Linked DNA regions of Homo sapiens: all the other regions are linked to region 3. Evidence: fine-mapped expression QTL. A gene starts in region 3. Each other region holds a variant in brackets. All regions are shown on one strand. Distances are from middle to middle. Region 1 overlaps VDR (vitamin D receptor). Region 2 overlaps VDR (vitamin D receptor). Region 3 holds the start of VDR (vitamin D receptor).

Region 1 (8,178 bases), 61 kb after region 3:
AAAAAAAAAAAAAAAAAAAGGAGTAGAAAACAAGCATGTAAAGAGCAGAACTGGAGGAGACGGGCAAAATAAGAGCACCAGCAATGTTCAAGGCATCACAATGACATGGCCCTAACTGTGCTAAAGAGTCAGAAGGTGCGGGGCTCCAGTGGAAAACACAGTGGATTCAGGACCAGAAAAACAAAATGGAGAATTAGAAGGGTATTCCTGGCTGGAGCTGTAGTATGCTGAAAGGCGTGGTGATGGCTGGGTGCAGTGGCTCACACCTGTAACCCTGGTTCTTTGAGAGGCCAAGATGAGAGGATCACTTGAGGCCAGGAATTTGAGACCAGCCTGGGCCACATAGTGAGACACCATCCCTACAAAAAAAATTTAAAAATTAGCTAGGCGTACACCTGTAATCCCAGCACTTTGGGAAGCCTAGGCAGGCAGATCACAAGGTCAGGAGATCGAGACCATCCTGGCTAACACTGTGAAACCTCGTCTCTACTAAAAATACAAAAAAAAATTAGCTGGCCATGGTGGCGGGCACCTGTAGTCCCAGCTACTCGGGAGGCTGAGGCAGGAGAATGGCGTGAACCTGGGAGGCGAAGCTTGCAGTGAGCCGAGATCGCGCCACTGCACTCCAGCCTGGGCGACAAAGTGAGACTCCGTCTCAAAAAAAATTAGCTAGGCGTGATGGTGTGCACCTGTAGTCCCAGCTACTTAGGAGGCTGAGGCAGGAGGACTGCTTGAGCCCAGGAGTTTGAGGCTGCAGTAAGCCATAATCATTCTGTTGCACTCCAGCTTGTGTGACAGAACAGGACACTGTCTCTAAAAATACTAATAAAAGAAATTAGCTGAGCATGGTGGCGCATGCTTGTAGTCTTAGCTATTCGGAAGGCTGAGGTGGGAGACTCACTTGAGCCCAGGAGTTTGAGGCTGTAGCATGCTATGATCATAACACTGCACTCCAGCCTCAGCAACAGAGTGAGATCCTGTCACAAGAAAAAAAAAAGGCACAGTGAGAACACACAGCATCTGAATGTGGAGTGGCATGATGCTGCTAGAATGGAAGGTTGGTGGAGTTTACCATGGGAAAGGGAGTTGGAATGAGAGGTTGGAGCCAAGTTAGGGAGTGTGGGCCTGATCCTAGGGTGTTTGAGAGTCAGTGAAGATTTCTGAGTGCAAGAGGACATTGACCTGCAGCAGTGGTAAGAAAGATGAATGAGAGACTGGAGAGACACAAGTCTGGGATTCCTGTAAGAGGCTATTGGAAAAGACGCTGGAGCTCTGAACCAGGGCACTCCTGGTAGGAGTGGGAATAAGATCACGGGCTTGAGAGACATCCTAGAGACAGAGTTGGCTGAATTTACTACTGAGAAGGACTGGAGGACAGTAGGAGGGAGAGGAGGAGAAAACTTGGGTGTTGTTGAAGATACCATGGCCCTACCTTTTGCAGACCACCATATTCATGCCTCAATGCTGGGAACTTCCCTGGGCTCCGTTTCCTGTGCCCCATAGCTCTGGCTGCTTGGTCTCTGAGTTTTTCTTGTCTTAGTAACTGAGCTACTTCACTTCTGGCCTTGGCACATGATCACAGTGTTGAACTGTTCTCTCTCAAGGAACACTCTTGTCCCTTCCAGCCAGCCTGCAAGCTCCTCGATGAAAGACCCAGGGTGCATGTTGGTGCCCAGCAGGTGTATACCTGTCAAAGCACTAAACTGATTTGTGTGGCTTGAAGGCGTTTACTGGTAACCTGACCTCCTTCCCTCCCTCCCCTGCAGAGACCTCACCTCTGAGGACCAGATCGTACTGCTGAAGTCAAGTGCCATTGAGGTCATCATGTTGCGCTCCAATGAGTCCTTCACCATGGACGACATGTCCTGGACCTGTGGCAACCAAGACTACAAGTACCGCGTCAGTGACGTGACCAAAGGTATGCCTAGACTCCACCTCCTGGGGAGTCTTTTTCAGCTCCCAGATTCTGGCTCCACCCGTCCTGGGGTTTGGCTCCAATCAGATACATGGGAGGGAGTTAGGCACCAACAGGGAGAGAAGGGCGAGGGTCAGACCCATGGGGTTGGAGGTGGGTGGGCGGCTCCTCAGCTCTGCCCGCAGTACCTGGCCATTGTCTCTCACAGCCGGACACAGCCTGGAGCTGATTGAGCCCCTCATCAAGTTCCAGGTGGGACTGAAGAAGCTGAACTTGCATGAGGAGGAGCATGTCCTGCTCATGGCCATCTGCATCGTCTCCCCAGGTATGGGGCCAGGCAGGGAGGAGCTCAGGGACCTGGGGAGCGGGGAGTATGAAGGACAAAGACCTGCTGAGGGCCAGCTGGGCAACCTGAAGGGAGACGTAGCAAAAGGAGACACAGATAAGGAAATACCTACTTTGCTGGTTTGCAGAGCCCCTGTGGTGTGTGGACGCTGAGGTGCCCCTCACTGCCCTTAGCTCTGCCTTGCAGAGTGTGCAGGCGATTCGTAGGGGGGATTCTGAGGAACTAGATAAGCAGGGTTCCTGGGGCCACAGACAGGCCTGCGCATTCCCAATACTCAGGCTCTGCTCTTGCGTGAACTGGGCTCAACATTCCTGTTATTTGAGGTTTCTTGCGGGCAGGGTACAAAACTTTGGAGCCTGAGAGATGGTTCTGCCTATATAGTTTACCTGATTGATTTTGGAGGCAATGTGCAGTGACCCTTGACCTCTTCCGCTGGTTAGAGGTGAGAAGAGGGAGAAAAGGCCGAAGAGGAAGTTATTGTGACCTTGGGGACATGATGTCGGTGATGAGGTCCAAAGAGGGGCGGCCCTGCCTCAGCCTGTGCTAGTGGCCTGTGCCCAGGGATGCTTTCCTGGACTGGAGGCTCAAGGAATGGAGATGGGCTCCTCTACCCCTGCCCAGCCAGCCTTCTCTCATTCATTCATCCACTTAGCAACAATTTATTGAGCACCTATTAGGTACCAGGCACTATGCTAGGTACTGGGGTTCAGCAGCAAATGGGACACAGGCTCCTCTCCCATGAAGCTTAGGAGGAAACATTAAACAAATGTTATTTAATTATTAATTCCTAACAAGGCAAGAGTTTTAAAAATAAAGTAAGTGATGCTACAGAAGGGTAGAATAGAAGGAGGGAAGCTGACGTGGTCTGGGCTACAGAGGTAGAGTGTTGCCAGGAATGGCCTTTTGGAGGAAGACCTTTTAAGCTGTTATCCAAAGGATCAGTAAGAGTCTGGCAAAGATAGCAGAGCAGAGTTCCAAGCAGAGGGAGCACAGATGTGAAGGCTGGTGGCCAGAGAGCATGGCGCATCGGGACGCTGAGGGATGGACAGAGCATGGACAGGGAGCAAGGCCAGGCAGGGACAGGGCCAGGTGCGCCCATGGAAGGACCTAGGTCTGGATCCTAAATGCACGGAGAAGTCACTGGAGGGCTTTGGGGCCAGGCAGTGGTATCACCGGTCAGCAGTCATAGAGGGGTGGCCTAGGGGGTGCTGCCGTTGAGTGTCTGTGTGGGTGGGGGGTGGTGGGATTGAGCAGTGAGGGGCCCAGCTGAGAGCTCCTGTGCCTTCTTCTCTATCCCCGTGCCCACAGATCGTCCTGGGGTGCAGGACGCCGCGCTGATTGAGGCCATCCAGGACCGCCTGTCCAACACACTGCAGACGTACATCCGCTGCCGCCACCCGCCCCCGGGCAGCCACCTGCTCTATGCCAAGATGATCCAGAAGCTAGCCGACCTGCGCAGCCTCAATGAGGAGCACTCCAAGCAGTACCGCTGCCTCTCCTTCCAGCCTGAGTGCAGCATGAAGCTAACGCCCCTTGTGCTCGAAGTGTTTGGCAATGAGATCTCCTGACTAGGACAGCCTGTGGCGGTGCCTGGGTGGGGCTGCTCCTCCAGGGCCACGTGCCAGGCCCGGGGCTGGCGGCTACTCAGCAGCCCTCCTCACCCCGTCTGGGGTTCAGCCCCTCCTCTGCCACCTCCCCTATCCACCCAGCCCATTCTCTCTCCTGTCCAACCTAACCCCTTTCCTGCGGGCTTTTCCCCGGTCCCTTGAGACCTCAGCCATGAGGAGTTGCTGTTTGTTTGACAAAGAAACCCAAGTGGGGGCAGAGGGCAGAGGCTGGAGGCAGGGCCTTGCCCAGAGATGCCTCCACCGCTGC[C/A]TAAGTGGCTGCTGACTGATGTTGAGGGAACAGACAGGAGAAATGCATCCATTCCTCAGGGACAGAGACACCTGCACCTCCCCCCACTGCAGGCCCCGCTTGTCCAGCGCCTAGTGGGGTCTCCCTCTCCTGCCTACTCACGATAAATAATCGGCCCACAGCTCCCACCCCACCCCCTTCAGTGCCCACCAACATCCCATTGCCCTGGTTATATTCTCACGGGCAGTAGCTGTGGTGAGGTGGGTTTTCTTCCCATCACTGGAGCACCAGGCACGAACCCACCTGCTGAGAGACCCAAGGAGGAAAAACAGACAAAAACAGCCTCACAGAAGAATATGACAGCTGTCCCTGTCACCAAGCTCACAGTTCCTCGCCCTGGGTCTAAGGGGTTGGTTGAGGTGGAAGCCCTCCTTCCACGGATCCATGTAGCAGGACTGAATTGTCCCCAGTTTGCAGAAAAGCACCTGCCGACCTCGTCCTCCCCCTGCCAGTGCCTTACCTCCTGCCCAGGAGAGCCAGCCCTCCCTGTCCTCCTCGGATCACCGAGAGTAGCCGAGAGCCTGCTCCCCCACCCCCTCCCCAGGGGAGAGGGTCTGGAGAAGCAGTGAGCCGCATCTTCTCCATCTGGCAGGGTGGGATGGAGGAGAAGAATTTTCAGACCCCAGCGGCTGAGTCATGATCTCCCTGCCGCCTCAATGTGGTTGCAAGGCCGCTGTTCACCCACAGGGCTAAGAGCTAGCGCTGCCGCACCCCAGAGTGTGGGAAGGGAGAGCGGGGCAGTCTCGGGTGGCTAGTCAGAGAGAGTGTTTGGGGGTTCCGTGATGTAGGGTAAGGTGCCTTCTTATTCTCACTCCACCACCCAAAAGTCAAAAGGTGCCTGTGAGGCAGGGGCGGAGTGATACAACTTCAAGTGCATGCTCTCTGCAGCCAGCCCAGCCCAGCTGGTGGGAAGCGTCTGTCCGTTTACTCCAAGGTGGGGTCTTTGTGAGAGTGAGCTGTAGGTGTGCGGGACCGGTACAGAAAGGCGTTCTTCGAGGTGGATCACAGAGGCTTCTTCAGATCAGTGCTTGAGTTTGGGGAATGCGGCCGCATTCCCTGAGTCACCAGGAATGTTAAAGTCAGTGGGAACGTGACTGCCCCAACTCCTGGAAGCTGTGTCCTTGCACCTGCATCCGTAGTTCCCTGAAAACCCAGAGAGGAATCAGACTTCACACTGCAAGAGCCTTGGTGTCCACCTGGCCCCATGTCTCTCAGAATTCTTCAGGTGGAAAAACATCTGAAAGCCACGTTCCTTACTGCAGAATAGCATATATATCGCTTAATCTTAAATTTATTAGATATGAGTTGTTTTCAGACTCAGACTCCATTTGTATTATAGTCTAATATACAGGGTAGCAGGTACCACTGATTTGGAGATATTTATGGGGGGAGAACTTACATTGTGAAACTTCTGTACATTAATTATTATTGCTGTTGTTATTTTACAAGGGTCTAGGGAGAGACCCTTGTTTGATTTTAGCTGCAGAACGTATTGGTCCAGCTTGCTCTTCAGTGGGAGAAAACACTTGTAAGTTGCTAAACGAGTCAATCCCCTCATTCAGGAAAACTGACAGAGGAGGGCGTGACTCACCCAAGCATATATAACTAGCTAGAAGTGGGCCAGGACAGGCCCGGCGCGGTGGCTCACGCCTGTAATCCCAGCAGTTTGGGAGGTCGAGGTAGGTGGATCACCTGAGGTCGGGAGTTCGAGACCAACCTGACCAACATGGAGAAACCCTGTCTCTATTAAAAATACAAAAAAAAAAAAAAAAAAAATAGCCGGGCATGGTGGCGCAAGCCTGTAATCCCAGCTACTCAGGAGGCTGAGGCAGAAGAATTGAACCCAGGAGGTGGAGGTTGCAGTGAGCTGAGATCGTGCCGTTACTCTCCAACCTGGACAACAAGAGCGAAACTCCGTCTTAGAAGTGGACCAGGACAGGACCAGATTTTGGAGTCATGGTCCGGTGTCCTTTTCACTACACCATGTTTGAGCTCAGACCCCCACTCTCATTCCCCAGGTGGCTGACCCAGTCCCTGGGGGAAGCCCTGGATTTCAGAAAGAGCAAGTCTGGATCTGGGACCCTTTCCTTCCTTCCCTGGCTTGTAACTCCACCAACCCATCAGAAGGAGAAGGAAGGAGACTCACCTCTGCCTCAATGTGAATCAGACCCTACCCCACCACGATGTGGCCCTGGCCTGCTGGGCTCTCCACCTCAGCCTTGGATAATGCTGTTGCCTCATCTATAACATGCATTTGTCTTTGTAATGTCACCACCTTCCCAGCTCTCCCTCTGGCCCTGCCTTCTTCGGGGAACTCCTGGAAATATCAGTTACTCAGCCCTGGGCCCCACCACCTAGGCCACTCCTCCAAAGGAAGTCTAGGAGCTGGGAGGAAAAGAAAAGAGGGGAAAATGAGTTTTTATGGGGCTGAACGGGGAGAAAAGGTCATCATCGATTCTACTTTAGAATGAGAGTGTGAAATAGACATTTGTAAATGTAAAACTTTTAAGGTATATCATTATAACTGAAGGAGAAGGTGCCCCAAAATGCAAGATTTTCCACAAGATTCCCAGAGACAGGAAAATCCTCTGGCTGGCTAACTGGAAGCATGTAGGAGAATCCAAGCGAGGTCAACAGAGAAGGCAGGAATGTGTGGCAGATTTAGTGAAAGCTAGAGATATGGCAGCGAAAGGATGTAAACAGTGCCTGCTGAATGATTTCCAAAGAGAAAAAAAGTTTGCCAGAAGTTTGTCAAGTCAACCAATGTAGAAAGCTTTGCTTATGGTAATAAAAATGGCTCATACTTATATAGCACTTACTTTGTTGCAAGTACTGCTGTAAATAAATGCTTTATGCAAACCAATTTGCCTTATCCTTATAAGGACCTTATGGGAGATGAATCATTATTACCCCCATTTGACAGAAAGGATAGCTTGAGCAATGCCACACTAGCAAGGGATGGGATTTGAACCTTCAGCAGCTAGGTTCAGAAGCCACAAATTAACTGCTACATTGTCCTGCTTCCTATTGAGTTGGGGGACCTGACAGACGACTGATGGTCTTGCTAGCTCTCTCCTAGAGAGGAGATAAAAGAGGTTCCCATTCCTAAAGCAGGCCCTGAGCCAGGAAAATTAGAGGTGCTGGACCAAACTGTGCTCTACTCCCAGGAAGTGTGCAGTCAATATATGACACCTACGTGAGACCCTCAAAAATGAAAACCAAACAGCTACTGGCAAAACTGTGTCTGCCATTAGAGATGGCGGCTGTGCCAGTGACCTGGAGGATTACAAATGACTGCTGTGCAGAAACAGGACTCCTAAGGGGCCCAACTTATGCCGATGCACTCCATTCTGCTTCCCAAGGAAGTGGGGTTTATGATGAAGGGTAGCATTGCTAGGCACAGTAAACAAGAACACAGCATTGTGATCTGAAAATAAGGAAATCATGCCAGCTAATGTATTGATTGAGGATAAGTTGGCCTGGGGATGTGATTCACTCTAATTTTTCAGAAACATCTGAAAATATTTCAAACCAAAGGCTAAAATGTGTTTCAGTGGGATGAGATGGACTTAGGGGAATTGGGGTTAGAACTTGAGGGTTATTTTGTGAAACATGAAGGGACTTAGAGAAAGGAAATCAACAGCTGCATAAATGGGCATGTCTCTGGCTGGAGAAATGTGGAGAATGGAGTTCTGATACACTGTTAGAAGGATCTTATGTAGCATTTTTATAGCTGACCTAGAAGAACACAAAATTTCCAAGGCTGTGTTATAATGCGCTTTTCCAGGTAAACCAAGAGGAATATACCCCAGGAAGGTTGCATAATTAGGATCAAGTGTTTTCAAGTTTTCATATTCCAAGCTTTGGTTCTATGCCTACACTGTTCAATCCAGTAGCCACTAGCTACATGTGAGTATTTAAATGAAATAAAGGTAAACATCTAGCTTGTCAACCGCACAAGCCACAGTTCCAGTATTTGATAACCTCAGGGCTACCGTAAGAG
Region 2 (8,178 bases), 42 kb after region 3:
CACCCAGCCTCAAGGGTGCCACCTTTCTAGCTAAGAACACTTCAGTAGTTTTCTGGGTTTTTTTTGTTTTGTTTTGTTTTGTTTTTTGAGACAGGGTCTTGCTCTGTTGCCCAGGCTGGAGTGCAGTGGCATGATCTTGGCCTACTGCAACCTCTACCTCCTGGGTTCAAACGACTCTCCTGCCTCAGCTCCCAGCCCCCAAGTAGCTGGGACTACAGGCATGCACCATCATGGCCAACTAATTTTTGTATTTTTAGTAGAGACGGAGTTTTGGCATGTTGGCCAGGCTGGTCTCAAACTCCTTACCTCAGATGATCCGCCCACCTCAGCCTCTCAAAGTGCTAGGATTACAGGCCTGAGCCACTGTGCCCAGCTCTAGTTTTCTGTTCCTACAGAGCTCCTGCTTCCTCTTCCTTTCAAAAAACCCAAGGCCAGGCCTCAGGATTTCCACCTGCTTGTCTGGCCCCTTCTTTTTCTGGGCAGGTTCTGGGATGTCTAGAGCTATGGTTTGGGCCTTTTCTTCCTTCCATGTACACATCTATCCCTGGAACAGGAGCTATTCCAGTCACAGGTCTCTAGAATCTAGAAGACTTCATGCTGAGACTAGCATCCTTACTTCTCATAGCGGCTCATTAAATGTTATTATGCTGGCTACTCTGGAGATTTCAATATTTAAAAAGGTTTCTTCGGCCAGGCACAGTGGCTTACGCCTGTAATCCCAGCACTTTGGGAGGCCGAGGCAGGCGGATCATGAGGTCAGGAGATCGAGACCACAGTGAAACCCCGTCTCTACTGAAAATACAAAGAATTAGCCGGGTGCGGTGGTGGGCGCCTGTAGTCCCAGCTACTCGGGAGGCTGAGGCAGGAGAACGGCATGAACCCAGGAGGTGGAGCTTGCAGTGAGCTGAGATCGCAACACTGCACTCCAGCCTGGGCGACAGAGCGAGACTCCATCTCAAAAAAAAAAGGGTTTTTTCTAGGGAAATGCACTTTTGTTATTTCCTGTTTAATTTTTTAAAATGGGAAGGGGAACAGAGTACTGTAAAATAAGTATAAGAGTCGGGGCGTGGCTGTGCGCGATGGCTCACGCCTGTAATCCCAGCACTTTGGGAGGCCAAGGCAGGCGGATCATGAGGTCAGGAGATCGAGACCATCCTGGCTAACACGGTGAAACCCCATTTCTACTAAAAATACAAAAAAAAATTAGCCAGGAGTGGTGGCGGGCGCCTGTAGTCCCAGCTACTCTGGAGGCTGAGGCAGGAGAATGGTGTGAACCCGGGAGGTGGAGCTTGCAGTGAGCTGAGTGAGCCACTGCACTCCAGCCTGGGTGACAGAGCAAAACTCCGTCTCAAAAAAAAAAAAAAAAAAGAGTCGGAGTGCAGTGGCTCACACCTGTAATCCCAGCACTGTGGGAGGCCTAGGATAGAGGATTGCTTCAGCCCAGGAGTTCCAGACTAGCCTGGGCAACATAGTGAGACCCCATTTTTACAAAAAAATCAAAAAATTAGCCAGGCATGGTGGTATGCACCTGTAATCCCAGCTATACTGGAGGCTGAAGCAGGAGGATTACTTGAACCCAGGAGGTCCAGCCTGCAGTGAGCTGAGATCATGCCACTGCATTCCAGCCTGGGCTACAAAGCAACACCCTGTCCCCCCAAAAGAAACAAAAATTAAAAGAAAAAAGGTAAGTACAAGCCATGATTGGAGCTGGGCAGGCAATGAAAGGAGAAGTAGGAATCGTTTGGTGCCCAGCCTAGAGGTGAGAGTGACTGGCAGCTGGGGTGGGCCTCATGTCTTCTGTTGGAGAAATGGAGACCAGGGGGCCCAGAAGACAGGTCTCCGTGATGACAGGGTGAGGAGCCGGAAGTTCAGTGACCCAGGGCAGGGTGTGTGCTCTCTCGGCAGGCGAAGCATGAAGCGGAAGGCACTATTCACCTGCCCCTTCAACGGGGACTGCCGCATCACCAAGGACAACCGACGCCACTGCCAGGCCTGCCGGCTCAAACGCTGTGTGGACATCGGCATGATGAAGGAGTGTGAGTGTCCAGGGGCTGGGCAGGGTTTGGGCCTGAAGTGGAGTCAGGGAAAGGCCTTGGCCACTCTCCTGCAAGTTTGGGCAGAGGGTCTGCCTGCCCTTCCTCTGTAGCTGCCAGCATCTGGGGCCAGGGCCTCAGTGGGACCAGCAGCTGGTGACAGGGCAGCTGGAAGTCCAGGGTCAGATGCACTCAGCGGCCCTGTGCACCTCTTGAGGATCTGTGTGTTGGTGTCAGAGGCCCTGGAAGGGTCCCTCCAGAGTGGGGCCTGAGAGGAAGGAGAGGCCGGACACTGCCTTCAAGAGTCCCTTCTACTCCTGGGTCAGGGTCTTCCTCCAGGATGTCATTCTTTTTTCACAGCTCCCTGTTACTCGGACCTAGAGGGAAGAATGAGGTTCAAGGACCCCCAGGTTCTATGGGCTTGGGAAGAGAGGGCTGATGTGGGTTAGGAAGGGCAGGAGTGATGGGGAGAATTAGTATTCAGAGCATAGTTGGCATCCACGTTCTGTCCCACCCCAGCCTCCCAGCCTCTCTGGCGCCTTGAGCAGATCTGAGGGCTTGTGCCAGGGAGAGACCAGGAGGAAAGAGTCTGCCAGGGGAAGCACTGGGTTCTAGGACGACCCTCTGAATCCAGATGGAGAAAGAGGAGTGATTCTATAGGACTTCCTGTCCCTCTCTGGGGTTGGAGAAGACCAACATGGCATATTTACATGGATATTTTGACCCATCACTGAAAACAACACTTGAACTTTGCATCAGAGCTCTAGGACAGTTATTTGGTAACTAGAGTAGGCATTGAATTCAGTAGATGCTGGGAGGGGCCAGCCTGGCCCTCTCTGGGCTGGAGCAAGGCCAGCTGGGCATGGGTGCTCTCTGTACACTCATTCCTTTTTCTCCTTCTCTTGCTCACTCCTGTCTGCCATCTGCATCCAGACCCCCACCCGGCCCTAGGACAGAACCCAGGCCCTCCTAGCTGTGGGTCTGAGGAATCGGAGTCGGAGTCGGGGTGGGGATGTTGCTCAGATGCGGACCCTCCTGGCTATGGGACCGTTTGGAGTGGTTGGGG[A/G]TGGGGAGAGGTCAGGTAACAGGAAGATGTGTCAGGGACAGAGGATAAGTCACAGAACAGGGCTTAGAGGATAGCAAATTTCTCCGTTAATGGGAAAAAAATTATCTGTTGTTGGGACACAGAGGCAGAGCTGAGGCCCTGACCCTGGGCTTCCTCTTTGGGCCTTGACCTAGGCTTCTCTTCTGTGGGTCATGACTCCTCCCTCCTGATCTGACGGCTCCCCAGCCAACACTGGCAGCCCTGAAAGGTGTTTCCAGGGCTGTGGTTTCTCCACACCATCACAGGGTGCAGGCCTGGGCACGCTGGTCGCTCCTACCCTAGTCCCTGCCACGCCCTGGCTCCTGTGTTTATCCTGGAGAGAATAAGAAGTGGAGGCTGGAGGCCCGGGTGCCTTAAGAGGCTTCACACACATTCTCAGTGGGCCCTGCTCAGGGTGAGGCGTTAGGGTGGGCACCAACAAGGTGTGCTCAGCACAGTCCCATCTCCGCAGAGAAGACAGCCTCTGCAAAGCAGGGAGTCCGGTTTCTAAAGCTCCAGCTAACCAAGACTGGCACGAGGTTCCACTGCAGTGGTTCGTAAGGCACTGCCACAGGAGTTCCCCTCAGGACTAAGCTCACTGATGCCCAAGAGGCCCCTCTCCTACCTCAGGAGGAAGAGGATGTCTTACTGACTTAAAATAGAAAGAACATCTGAGACTCAGAGAGGTAAAGACCTCAGGTCTGGGGTCAGAAAGCAAGTTGGTGGCCAAGCTGGGACTAGAATCAGACTTCATGTCCCCTCCTACCTGCCTCCTGGTCCCCATAAACAGCGCTGCATCCATGGTGAAGAGCAGCACCAGCCTGGGGTAAATCAGGGGGCCCTGCCCAGGAGCACCCTACCACGTGGTGGGAACCCAGCAGCCCAGAAGCGATGTCCACCCCATCCCTCAGCCACGCCCACCCCAGCCTAATTCTCTCCTGTGGAGTCCTGTGTCCCCATCCTGCTGTATGCCCAAGGTAGCTTCTCGCCACACCACCCTCCTCATCCCAGTGCAGGGAGCAGTACTCAGTTCTAGATGGGCTGGTGGAGCGGGGATCCAGTTAAAATAGAAACGTCCTGATGCTTTTTACTTTCCTGAAGGGAAGACTGTCCAGGAAGAGACATTCCCAGCCTCAGGTTAGTCCAGCTTCAGGAGGCCTCACCAGTGTGAAGTCCCCCGGCCTCAGAACCCTGGGAGAGCTGCACATTTCTTATCTGGGCTGGGTTTTGTCCCCAAGGCATAGCATCCCAGAGACAATTGAGTGTCTCAATATTTGTAAAACCACAGGAAGAAAGCTAAAAGCCCAGGCTCCTGCTGTCCGAGCAAGGAGGTGGGCCTTCCATAGAAGAGGCACAGGAAGGGAAAGGATGAGGACAGAAACCCTGTGTATTGACCAACTACTGTGTGTCAGATAGCACATCAAGCACATGCATTTTCTTCTGAAATTCTCACAACACTCCCTAAATACGTAAATACTTTTATTTTTTCAATAGCTGAGGAAGCTCAGAGGAATTAAAATATCATGGCTCTCAGCTAATAAGATGATGGTATCAGCATTCATTCTAATCTAGGTCTTTCTGCTTCCAAAGGGCAGGCTTGTGGGCCACACCCGAGGCAGCCTCTCGTGGCCCCAGTGGGTCGGAGCTCACTCCATTGTGCATTTCCAGGCACTTTCACATGCTCTAAGAGATGGATTGAAGAGAGCTTGGTCCCACCAAAGACTCATTTTCTCTCTTTTCCATTCTTAGTTGACTTTATACCCTGGGAACCCAAGAAATTTTATAACTGAGTTCTTGCTTTTTGCTTATACTATTACCTGTCCTGCACAGAACCACACATTGTGGTAACTTGTTTGATGTTTTTACAGATGTATGTCTTTTCTCCCTGGTGTTAGTAAAGTACCTGGCACATAGTAGGTGCTCAATAAATGTGTGGAATCAATGAATATTAGCTCCTCATTATGCTTCTTTCTCTCTGTATATCTTCCACAGGTCTATAGATCAGTAAGATTCTCCCAAACCTGATCATGTCTGTGCCGTTCATTTGGAAACATTTTATGTCCTCTTCCTGTGGTTGTTCTTAGCCCATCCTTGGCATCTTGAAATGTTTTCAAATTGTTTATGTTGCAGATCTTGGCTTCGTTAAGGAGAGAACATGTCTTGCATGGGAATAACTTGCGCAAAATTATTTCACACTCAGCAAGGAGCTTAAAATGAAGTCAAAAAAAGCTTCTGAGCAGCCATGTAGGTTTTACAAAGTCCACATGCCAAAACTCATGCACTTTAGACGCCTGATCACCAGACAGCCCAACACTCTTTCAGAACCTGTTTACTCTTATTCTAGGTCAATGGCTTCATATATCATATAGTGTCTTCCTATATGATAGTAATGACATCTTAGGTTCAATCCATTGAAAAAATGATAAGAAATTTCCCATGAAATTAACAAGATCTTTAAACAAATTATTTCGTAAATCACAGTGCATTTGCATATGTGAAAGACTTTAGACTTATTCAGTCCTCAAGCAATGTTGCCTTGCAGAAGGCTCATGGATTGGGCCTGTGTGAAACTGGTAGATCTCAGCATTTCTTCCTCTGTTACCTCCATAGAAGATGGAGGTTGCTATTTGATGCAAGTGACTGGGAGGAATCATGTTATAGGGTTAAACTTGAACTTTCTTTGTCTCTTTAAAGTGGGTAATTTACAAGCTTTGTGACTTAATTTTATTTTCACACTCTTCAGATGGATTGGAACACAATGCCTGTCAAAACTCCATGGCTGAAAGCCAAAGTCCGCTTATAACCAGATGTAATCAGACACAGTAGAGGCTAGTGGTTATGACCTTCCACTCCAGAACCAGACTGCCCAGGTCTAAATGCTGGTTTCACCACTGTTAGCTGTGTGACTTTGAGAAAGGTAGAAAGCCTCTCTGGGCCTCAGCTCCCTCATCTGCTAAATGGGAATAACAACAGCACCTGCCTTAAAGGGTTGTCATGAGGGCTAAATATATGAGTTAATATACAAAAGGCTCTCAGAATAGTGCCTTATAGATAGAAAAACTCTTTATGTGCCATCCAGCATTACGAATATTTTCTTTTTATTACATCAAACTTGATCACCAGAACTTCTAGCTCCCAAGAGATCAGAAGTAAGTCTTAAGGGGGAGAAAGGCACACATCCAGAGGCAGACACCAATAAGAAGACAACGCATAGTTTAACAGGGAGGTGGACACTGGAAGCAAGAAAAGCAGCCCAAGAACTCCAAAGCCCAGCACGCCAAGCCATGCAATGCGGGGCAGACAGCCTCTGACAACTCTGAGGCTGTAACCTTGTCCTGCAATGTTCAGTAATTATTCAGAATGATACCTCTGAATCATCAGGGAAAGGTTATATGACGTTAAAAGTGTTCCGTTACAAGGTTTTCTGTCTTGAAAATCTTTCCATAACAATTGTTTCAATAAAAGAGGTCAGCTTTCTCAGCTCTCTGGTGTGCCAGGTGCCATTCACTACATTGCAGGAGACAAGCAGCACTAGAGTACTCACTAGCCTTTCCTGAACCAGGAAAATGATTTGCACACAGTTGGTGTAATCTGTGTGGATGCATTTGATATTTGGTGTCAGACTATTGAGCAGACACCACGGCCAGGTAGCCCCTCCGGTCTAGCCTTTATGGGGGAAATATAAGAATTGTAAGACAAAGGCCGGGCATGGTAGCTCACGCCTGTAATCCCAGCACTTTGGGAGGCCAAGGCGGGCAGATCACCTGAGGTCAGGAGTTTGAGACCAGCCTGGCCAACATGGTGAAACCCCATCTCTACTAAAAATACAAAAAAATTGGCCAGGCATGGTGGCATGTGCCTATAAGCCCAGGTACTCTGTAGCCTGAGGCAGGAGAATCGCTTAGAACCCGGGAGGTGGAGGTTGCAGTGAGCCGAGGTGGTGCCACTGCACTCCAGCCTGGATAATAGAGCGAGAGTCTGTGAAAGAAAGAAAGAAAGAAAGAAAGAAAGAAAGAAAGAAAGAAAGAAAGAAAGAAAGAAAAAGAAAGAAGGAAGGAAGGAAGGAAGGAAGGAAGGAAGGAAGGAAGGAAGGAAGGAAAGAAGGAAGGAAGGAAGGAAGGAAGGGAAAGGAAGGGAGAGAAAAGAAAGAATTGTAAGACATGGACCCTGCCCTTAAGTAACTTGTAATCTAGAGAAAGAGACCTTGAACTTCTTGGGCTCCGTCTATAGGTAATGAATTGAAAACTGTGCTAACCATGAGTCTTACAGAGCAGAAGATAATTGGGTGTCAATGTGTGTGGGAAAGACTAAATATGTAGCAGGCATAGGAAATGAGGCTCAGCAGAAAAAAACAAGGCTTGATGCAGATCAGGGCAATCAAGAAATGCTTCATGGAAAAAGATGGCTATGATGTAGGCACTGAAGAACTGGTAGAACTCATACAGGTTTGGGGGAGAGAAAACCCAGCTGGACGGGCACCTAGCACAACTGGAAATGCAGGGGCGAGCATGAGCAGGTCATGTTCCCAGGCCAGCAGCAATGCCAGCATGCCCAGAACAGAGGCTGTGTCCAGAAGCACTAAGACATGAAGTCTGAAAGTTAGGAAGAGGCCAACTTTAGTTTGGACGTGGTCATCAGTAGGGGCCGAGAAAAGTATCTGGGCAGGAGAATGGCATCACAGAATCACTGGAAAGTTAGCAAAGTCCAGTCAGGCTGAGCTACGTGCCTGTAGACACCATGGTGTGGCTGGCAGAAACAGGTCTCCCTAACTCTGGTCCCCAGGTGAGCAGGAAAGACAAGACACCTAATCTTGGGCTCCCCAAGCGAGGGCTTACCCCCATTGCCTTCCCTGGATGCTCCCTGCCCCTTCCTCTCCCACCCTGCCTGACCTGGTAGGGTCTGTGCAGACACCCACTGTGGGAGGAGAGTTGGCAGCTGTTTGGGCAGGTGAGTCAGTCACCTGGGTGTGGTCTACTCCCAGGCTCCCTGTGGAGGGAAGCACCATCTCTTGCAGTAGCGCTCGCTTTCCTGCCATGCCTGTGGCATTGGCTGTCCACTCCC
Region 3 (8,178 bases):
TCCATCAACTCCCTGGATGGAGTCTTCTGTCAGTTGGCTACTCAAACAATAAAGTCCGCCTAGCCCATGATCTAGGGCAGGATTTTTTTTTTTTTTTTTTTTTGAGACAGGGTCTCACTCTGCCTCCCAGGCCTCAAGCATAGTGGCATGATCATAGCTCACTGCAGCCTTGACCTCCTAGGCTCAAGCGATCCTCCCACTTCAGCCTCTCAAGCAGCTTGGACTACAAGCGCACACCACAATGCCTGGATAATTTTTAAATTTTTTGTAGAGATAGGGTCTCACTATGTTGTCCAGGCTGGTCTCAAACTCCTGGCCTCAAAGTAATCCTTCCACCTCAACTTCCTAAAGTACTGGGATTACAGGCCTGAGCCACTGTGTAGGGTAGGATTTTTAATACTGTATTTTGGGTCACAACCCATTAATGGGCTGTGAAATAAATTTGGTGGATCCCAAAAGGAAAGGAAGGAAGGAAAGAAGGAAGGAAAAGAAAGGAAAGGAAGGAAGGAAGGAAGGGAAAAGCAAGGAAAGAAAGAAAGGAAGGAAGGCAGGAAGGAAGGAAGAAAGAAAGAGAGAAAGGAAGAAAAAGGAATGAAAGAGGGAAGGAGGGAGGGAGGAAGGAAGGAAAAGAGGATAGAGAAAATAATAGAAAACATTGTAGAACATCTTTTGTATCAGGAACTTATATATATTCCTGAGTAAACTAGGTCACAGTAAAAACTTATTTCTTATTATGGGTTGCAGTTAAAATTTTGAAAAATACTGTCCTGGGAAGACCCCTTGGTTTGCTTTCATTGCTACAGCTTCTTACATTTATTCATTCTATTTTTACCATCTGGAACATAAATAAGGAGAGTCATCCCTGATCCTTTTTGTCTTAACTTGGGTTAGGAAATATAAATGAATTAATCTTTCTGAACTTAACGTGTGTTTTTTAAAAAATCTCTAAAACAAGGGAACAAACTGAAAAGATGGCCTGGTCCCTTCTGTCTTTCTAACTCCACGCTCATGTCTCTCAGAATGTTCTCTGGGTGTTTACTGAAGAGAGGCTTCTCTTCAGTCCTACCGTGCTCATAACCATAAAATATTTAAGGGGGGAAAATGGCCCTAAAAAAGGGAAAAACAAACAGTCAGATGGGAGTGTTCCAGAGAGAGCTCAAAGGGCACATTTTTACCTGCAGAGCAGCCTTTAGACAGCTCAAAAAACCTCTGTCCATGGGGACAGGGTCTCTGGGAGACTCACAGGGACAAAGTGACCCACTCTAGCTCTGACACCACAGCAAGAAGTGCAGAGAGCATCAGCCAGCCTCGAGGACAGTGGCCAGGCTGCAGAAAAAGGAAGCCCAGAGATGAGGACAGGCTGCAGTCCTGTGGCCTGACTGTAGCCACAACTGCCCAGGCCATCCCCAGGTGCCTGGAGCCTGGCAGAGAGGTCAAGAGACCAGGCCCTGCCTTTCTTTGGACTCTGTGGAATGAAATGCACAGGAATGAAATGAATGAAACGAAATCCTCAGCCTAGTACCTCTGGAATCTTTCCATCAAAGTCAGATGCACCGGGAAGGGCTCTTTTGTTTCTATATAGATTTTTGAGTCTATAGCACTATAGCAGAGTATCTAGCACACCACCAGACTTGGCTAATATTAACCAAGCAAGTGCTTACGAGATATTCCCTGATGTAATTTGGCAGAGATGAGTACTGACAAAAAACAATCTGTACATCCCAATAAAGACCACTACCCATCCCAGGGATAAGTGAGAATATGAGAAATGTTAACTTCAGGGAAAAGAAAAATTAATGTCTTCTGCAGAGGTTCTGGTACCTGGTTTATGGAGAAGTCAAGATAGGGGAATTTAAAACTATTAACTCTGTAGTGCAGGAATGGTGCTTGTCATCGAGGCATCAAGAGAACACGGTGTGGGACAGCAACCTCCCTTTCCAGTTGTGTACCTGGCTAGGGAGAAGTAGGGTCCAGAGACAATTAGGGATTACAACAGAACACAGGAGAAGTGAATCTCATATGATGTTGCTTTTCTACTTTCACAAAATAACCTTCCTTCTAAGAATAAAACAGGCAAAAAAAAATCTATCTTTGTTCAATGTAAATACAAGATGGTTCATTAGCAGGTGCCAAACCATGCAATATAGAAAATGCATGCGCTACAAAGACCAGAGAATTGACAGTTCCTTTCCTGGAGATGTTGGAAAAGCCTGATGGAATAGGCAGGACCTGAAAGAGGAGAGGGTCTGGAGAGGTGGATGAGAGAGAACAGTTCAGGTATTGGGGGAATATGGGAAGAACATGGTTACAGACAAGGTGACGGGGCTGATGACGGCATGTGCTGGGGACCGTGATGACATCTATAATCTTGCCCATCTGCCAAACGCAGAACCTCTGAGTTCTTCAACTCTGTGAAAAGTGCATGCATGGAAATTTTTTTTTTGTTTTTTAGAGGCAGCATGAAACAGTGGGATGTGCAGAGAGAAGATCTGGGTCCAGTAGCTCTGACACTCCTCAGCTGTAGAAACCTTGACAACTCTGCACATCAGTTGTACAATGGAACGGTATTTTTTACTCTTCATGTCTGAAAAGGCTATGATAAAGATCAAGTAAGATATTCCAAAGAATTTTTAAATTATAAAGCAGTTTACACATGTGAATTACAAGTACCTCTCCTCCAACAAAGGCTGTGAAAAAAGACTAACTCTCAGTTACTACGGAATACTTAGTACGCATCTTCCACCATCTTTTGATAAGGTTTATTTGCAAGATGTCAGGCCAGTCAAGCACCACAAAAGTGACTTCTGAGTGTTCAACCTCTTTCAGAGGCTCATGGGACTTGCAGAGAATGTCCCAAGGTATTGGTGGTTGGAAATTTCCTCTTATGCTTTTCTTCCCACAAGAATCACCGCTAGCTTTCCCACGATGCTTTGGGCAAGGGGATCCTTCCTATTACTTTCATTACAGGTAGAGAATCCATCCATCAGACTGGCAGGACCTCTAAAGGGGCACTTCATCTGTTTCTCAGAATAAATGGTCCATTCCCAAGTTCAATCAAACGCTATGCCTCTCTTCTGTCTTTTGTTTAAGTCTTCCCAGAAAGTTGCCATGATACCTCCATAATGAACTGTTGCAGTGCTTAACAAACTTCACTGTTGGAAGGTTCTTCCTTCTATTTAATCTCAGTCTATTTCTTTTAACCCTATTATTGAGTTGTGAGGGGCTGGTTATGATGTAGTCCAGCATAGCTGTCTCAGAAATGGTTCAGAGACCATTGCACCAGCAGATTTGCTGGGCTCTAGCACTAGTCCTTCATTGATTAGCTGAGTCATGTTGGGCATATCACTTAAACTTTCTATGCCTCAATTTCCCACCCTTTCACCTTGTCCCTCTGAGCCATGGTTTCCTCCTCTGTAAGAGGCGAATAGCAATATCTTCCCTGGCTAAAGGAGGTCATCGACTGCTGGATGATTTTGTGAGCATTTCTATTCCAGAAGATTATGTTGTAATTACTATTTATTTATACATTCTCCCACTGCACAGTGAGTTCTAAGAAGAGGGAACCCCATCTTTTTCACCTGTCCTCTAGCAGATAGAGCGGTGCCTATCACACAGTCAAGGGAAGCAGAGAATAACTTTAAGCCAAAATTTCCTGTGGTGAGTTTTCCGCAGCCATCCACAATTCCAGGTCTCAGGAGGTAGTCTTTATCTTTTCCCCTCACGCCGATGCCACGGGGCGGGGGGGGAAGGCGGAACTCGGGACCAGGGACCAGGGAAGCTGAGACTCAGCTCCCTTGGGTGAGATTCGCGACAGGCCGGGAACGTGGTCAGCCGCGGTCGCTGCCAAGGTGATATCGGGTGGGAGCAATGACGCAACTCCGGTTTCCACTTCGGCCCCCCGGGATATTTTACCCTAATCTGTGGGATCAGGCTGAGCTTCCTGGCGTTCTGCAGCAGTAACAGGTTGGCGAGCGGAGCCCGGGATTTCCCATTCGTGCGGAGCTAGCCGCCGGTGCCAGTCGGCAGGCGCCCCCCAGCGTCCCGCGGACGACGAAGTCCTGGCCTGGTCAGCCCAGGTGGGGGTGACGCACCTGGCTCAGGCGTCCGCAGCAGGCTGGGTAGAACCACGGCAGGAAGGGTGGGGGGCTGCATCCCCGATTAACACAGGCTGAAGCGGGTATCCGCACCTATAATCATCGACAACTCTGTCCCACAGAGGGCAGAAGCGTGCCTTGCCCTATGGACGACGGTCGATGAAAATTTCACGAGTTAGAGTATCTAAGGCTACAGCGTGGCCTATAGGGTGGTTGATTCCAAGTCAAGATGGTTGCAGCGCCAACGGAGCTCCTGGCAAGAGAGGACTGGACCTGTGGGCGGGGCGGAGGGGCGGGGCGGGGCCGGGGCGGGGCCTGACCGAGAGGCGGGGCCAGGTGCTGGGCTGTCTCTGCTTGTCAAAAGGCGGCAGCGGAGCCGTGTGCGCCGGGAGCGCGGAACAGCTTGTCCACCCGCCGGCCGGACCAGGTGCGAACCCGGGAGCAGCGGGAAAGGGGGTCTCAGGATAGGGACTCGGGGTCGGGGCGTCTGGGATACCGGGGCCTGAGCGCCCGGCTGCGAGCATTAGAGTCTAAGTCTCAGCGGTAAACTTGGCTACTGAGGTCCGGGCTGTCGTGCCATGAGGCTGGGACACTAAGGGGCACTGAGGTTTGAGAAAGCTGAAGTTCGTGCCAGGCTGGCGAGGGGAGCAGCGACATCCTCGGCGCTTAGGAGAAATGCTCCGCTAACACAGTGCTTAGCACTTGGGCAACAAGAAGTATTTGTTTCCTTCTTCTGTCGGGGCGCCTTGGCATGGAGTGGAGGAATAAGAAAAGGAGCGATTGGCTGTCGATGGTGCTCAGAACTGCTGGAGTGGAGGGTGTGTAACCTTATTTATTGTCTTACAGGGCCCAGGTATGGTCACCTGTGATGGTGGAGTTGGGTCTTTTAAGTAATTTTTTTTTTTTTTTTTTTTTTTTTACTTTTCTTTGAACTACCAATGAGTTTAGACCTAATTGGCCCTATTTTTTTTCAGGACAGCCTGTCAATAGATGTTCAGAGGAACTCAGGGGCAAGCATTTAAATGAGGAAGGGGCTCAAGGAGTAGTTTCTGTTTGAAAAGTGAGGTGCCCTGGATCTGTGGGTGGTGGTGAGGAAGATTCAGAAGTATCTAGGAGGGAACAGCCTGTGGTCTCCAGGGCCAGTGTACAACTGCCCCTCCTTCTCTTCACCCAGGGACCAGAGTCTGAGACCTAGCCTGGGCTGGGGGAGCCTTAGGTCTCCAAGCCCAGACCCTTCTCACAGTTCCTCCTCCTTCTCCTCCTCCTCCTCCTCCTCCTCTTGTTCCTCCTCCTCCTCTATGCGTGCGGTGAGTGAGTCAGCCTCCTGTCTGGGCTCAGTTGCAGCCAAAGGGGCCAGAGCCCAGGCAAGCAGTTGGGCAGGCATTTTCTGAGCATTGCAGAAGCTCTCCTGGGCAGAGTTCAGCTCTGCTCCAGCTCCCTGCTGGAAGGTGGTCTTCCTCATGGGCAGGGGCTCAGATACCCAACACAGCAGTGCTTATGGAATGGCTATGAGATGATTCTAGCAGGAGGTGACCGTGAAGGGATAGTGGCTTTATGATAAATCTACATCTCATCTTTCTCCTGGGATAAGGAGGTGCATCCCAGCACTGCAGGCTTTTCCAGCCCTTCCTTCCATTTCTGCCTAGTGGTCTCATTAGCAGCCCATCTCTGCTAGTGAAGGGGGTGAGCAAAAGAAATTAGGAAAGTCTGGGGCCAGAGAAGTCATGGTGTTGGCAAAGAAGGCTTTAACTCAGGCTAGGGAGTGAGGGTGATTTGCTGAGGTAGAAATGGGTTATCTGAACATTGGAGCCTCAATTCTATGGACTAAGAGTGTTGTGTGTTGAGAGACCTGCCGTCCCTTCCCTGTCCAAGTGCTGGAGGGAACTGTGAGTCTTTCTGAAACAGTCTCAGGGCTGGCATGCAGCCAGACCAGAAGGTAGTAAGACTGCACATTTCTCCCTGGCTTTTGTTTTGGGTGCTAGAGATCGTTGAACAGAAGTAGCCCTCCCTGCAGAGTCCGTGGCCCCCACTCAGCAGCCTCTCTGGACCTATTTGAGAAGAGTCCTGGGAGGCCAATCCAGCTGTGGGGCTGACTCAAACTGCAAAAAGCTGGGGAATTCACAGTCTATGCTCTGGCTGGGTCCCATGGCTTTGGGTTTGGCTGGTCTTGATCAGCTGTGACTTGGACCCTTACCAAGCTAAAGGAGGGACTAGAAAATGGGGTAAGAAAGGAGGGGAAAAAATGAGAGTTAGAAAGCCTTCCCAACCCTTTACTCCTCTTCGGCAGAGGCCATCAGACTTTGTTTGTATAAACATTATGGAAGGTCGGGTGCTGTTTGGGGTGCCCTGATAGTTTGTGTTTATGGTTTCTCAGTATTCTTCCCCTATTTGACCTCAAAACTGATCTCTTTTGTAACTAAGCCCCAGAGGAAGCTCCGAGAGGACCTCCTGAACCCCTACACTCTACCCCCAGAACAGATAGCAGGTGTCCAAAGCCCAGGCTGTGAATGGAGAAAGGCCTGGGACCGAGTGGGCTACATCAGGTGGCTACTACATCAGGTGGTTATCTAAGACACGAAAGGGAGTTCCCATTGTTTCATTCCTTACCCCACATCCTAAGGAGGCACCGCTGTCCTGGCTGGAATAGGCATCTGGAACCTCTGCTAGAAACTCGCTGTTGCCTGTGCAGCAGTCAGGTCCTAGGGGCCAGAGAGCCAGAGACGGGAGGACCACCTAGATGACATTTGGTGTGTTGCTGAATAAAGAATTACAGGGCTCCAGCTTCCATTTGTCCCTGCTGCAATTCTGTTTTGGATGCAGGTAGAGGGAAATAAGGAATTGACCAGATTTGATTAAGAGCCTCTTGTGTGCCCAGCATGACTCCAGGCCCTCTGAGGGATAGCAGGAAGCAGAACCCACCAGACCAGGCCCCTGACTCCAAGACAGTTTGAGCCCCAGGGTGGGCAGCAGTTCTCAGGCTCTCCCTCCACTATTGTCCAGTTCTGAGAGGATCCAGCTGGGCTGAAGCCAGCCTGGCTGCCACTCTGGGCCACCAAGGCCTTGCTTGTCATTTTGCTTCCCTCTGATTTGTCCCTAACCTTTTCCTGTGTCAGTGCCCTCCTAGATATGCTAGAAAGAGTGCCTGTGTAATGTATCTTGCAAACTGGGATACTTCTGAGAGTGAAAGGGGATGCCATGCATGGTTATACCAGGACAATGGACATAAACCCAAACTTTCCAGGGAAAAATGGAATATTAATCACCCTAGTGATCATCACTCCAAACTCAGCAGAGGTCACAGCAGTGATGAGGGGATGATAAGGTTGGGGGAGGCTTAATGCTCAAGGGAAAACAGGGGTAGCTTAATTCTGAGGACAGCCCCCGACACCCTAGCCTGCTCCCTGGTGTTATCAGCCAATTCTCGTCTTTTCCCTGGGGCGGCACTGCTCCCGGCCACCCTGTCCTGGGACCCAGCCCACCACTCGTGTGACTTCCCTTCACCCTTGACTTGTGACTGGCCTCACCTTTGGTTTTCCTGCCCCACCCCAACCTCAGACAGGGACAGGAAGGTCTGCCAACTCCTCTTCAGCTTCCCCTGGGGAAATTGGGGTTCATAGTGGAGCCAAGACTGGGCCTCACGTTTCCTCTTCCCTCTTCCTCCATATCTACAGCCTCCACATTTTGCTCATCCAGCTTCCCAGACCTCTGGGGACCACACTATCCCACAGAAAGTCTGGCTGTAAAGCAGGTAAGCAGCCAGGAAGGCAAGGGTAGGCAAACCTCGCCCACTCTGATAAAGGACATAGGTCACCTATAATCAGGTTCCGGGGAAATGAAAAGCAAAGTGGAGGCCAAAGCCAGGGAGAAGCTGCATTGCAGGAGACAGAGTCAGTTCCCAAAGACACTAGAGTTTGCCTCTTTGGTCTGGTCTGACTATTGGGGAAATGGTCCAGGGTGGGGAGAGGCTGTTCTTGCTCAATCCAAGTGACAGGCGTTGATGGCAGTGCCTGCATCCCGCTGTGGCGACATGTGGAAGAGAAACTGTCCTGCCTTCTGGGTCCTGGGTCCTCATGGTCCAGATGCA

Evidence for each region.
Region 1: its variant is fine-mapped to the expression of VDR in whole blood (TOPMed, PIP 0.96).
Region 2: its variant is fine-mapped to the expression of VDR in nasal epithelium (TOPMed, PIP above 0.99).

The regions. Positions count from the first base shown.
Region 1 is chr12:47,840,397-47,848,574 of GRCh38, reverse strand. It overlaps VDR (vitamin D receptor), which reads left to right. Exons shown (of 10, transcript NM_000376.3): 8 at 1,767-1,918; 9 at 2,124-2,240; 10 at 3,570-7,038. The coding sequence ends at 3,829. Among named protein-coding and RNA genes, the nearest start is that of LINC02354, 15 kb to the right of the region's middle. RefSeq lists enhancers at 2,194-2,695, 4,220-4,792, 4,793-5,366. The variant C/A (reference allele first, on the strand shown) is at 4,137.
Region 2 is chr12:47,858,905-47,867,082 of GRCh38, reverse strand. It overlaps VDR (vitamin D receptor), which reads left to right. Exons shown (of 10, transcript NM_000376.3): 4 at 1,906-2,036. Among named protein-coding and RNA genes, the nearest start is that of LINC02354, 34 kb to the right of the region's middle. The variant A/G (reference allele first, on the strand shown) is at 3,100.
Region 3 is chr12:47,901,298-47,909,475 of GRCh38, reverse strand. It overlaps VDR (vitamin D receptor), which reads left to right and starts at 4,482. Exons shown (of 10, transcript NM_000376.3): 1 at 4,482-4,521. RefSeq lists a silencer at 4,360-4,489 and an enhancer at 5,873-6,072.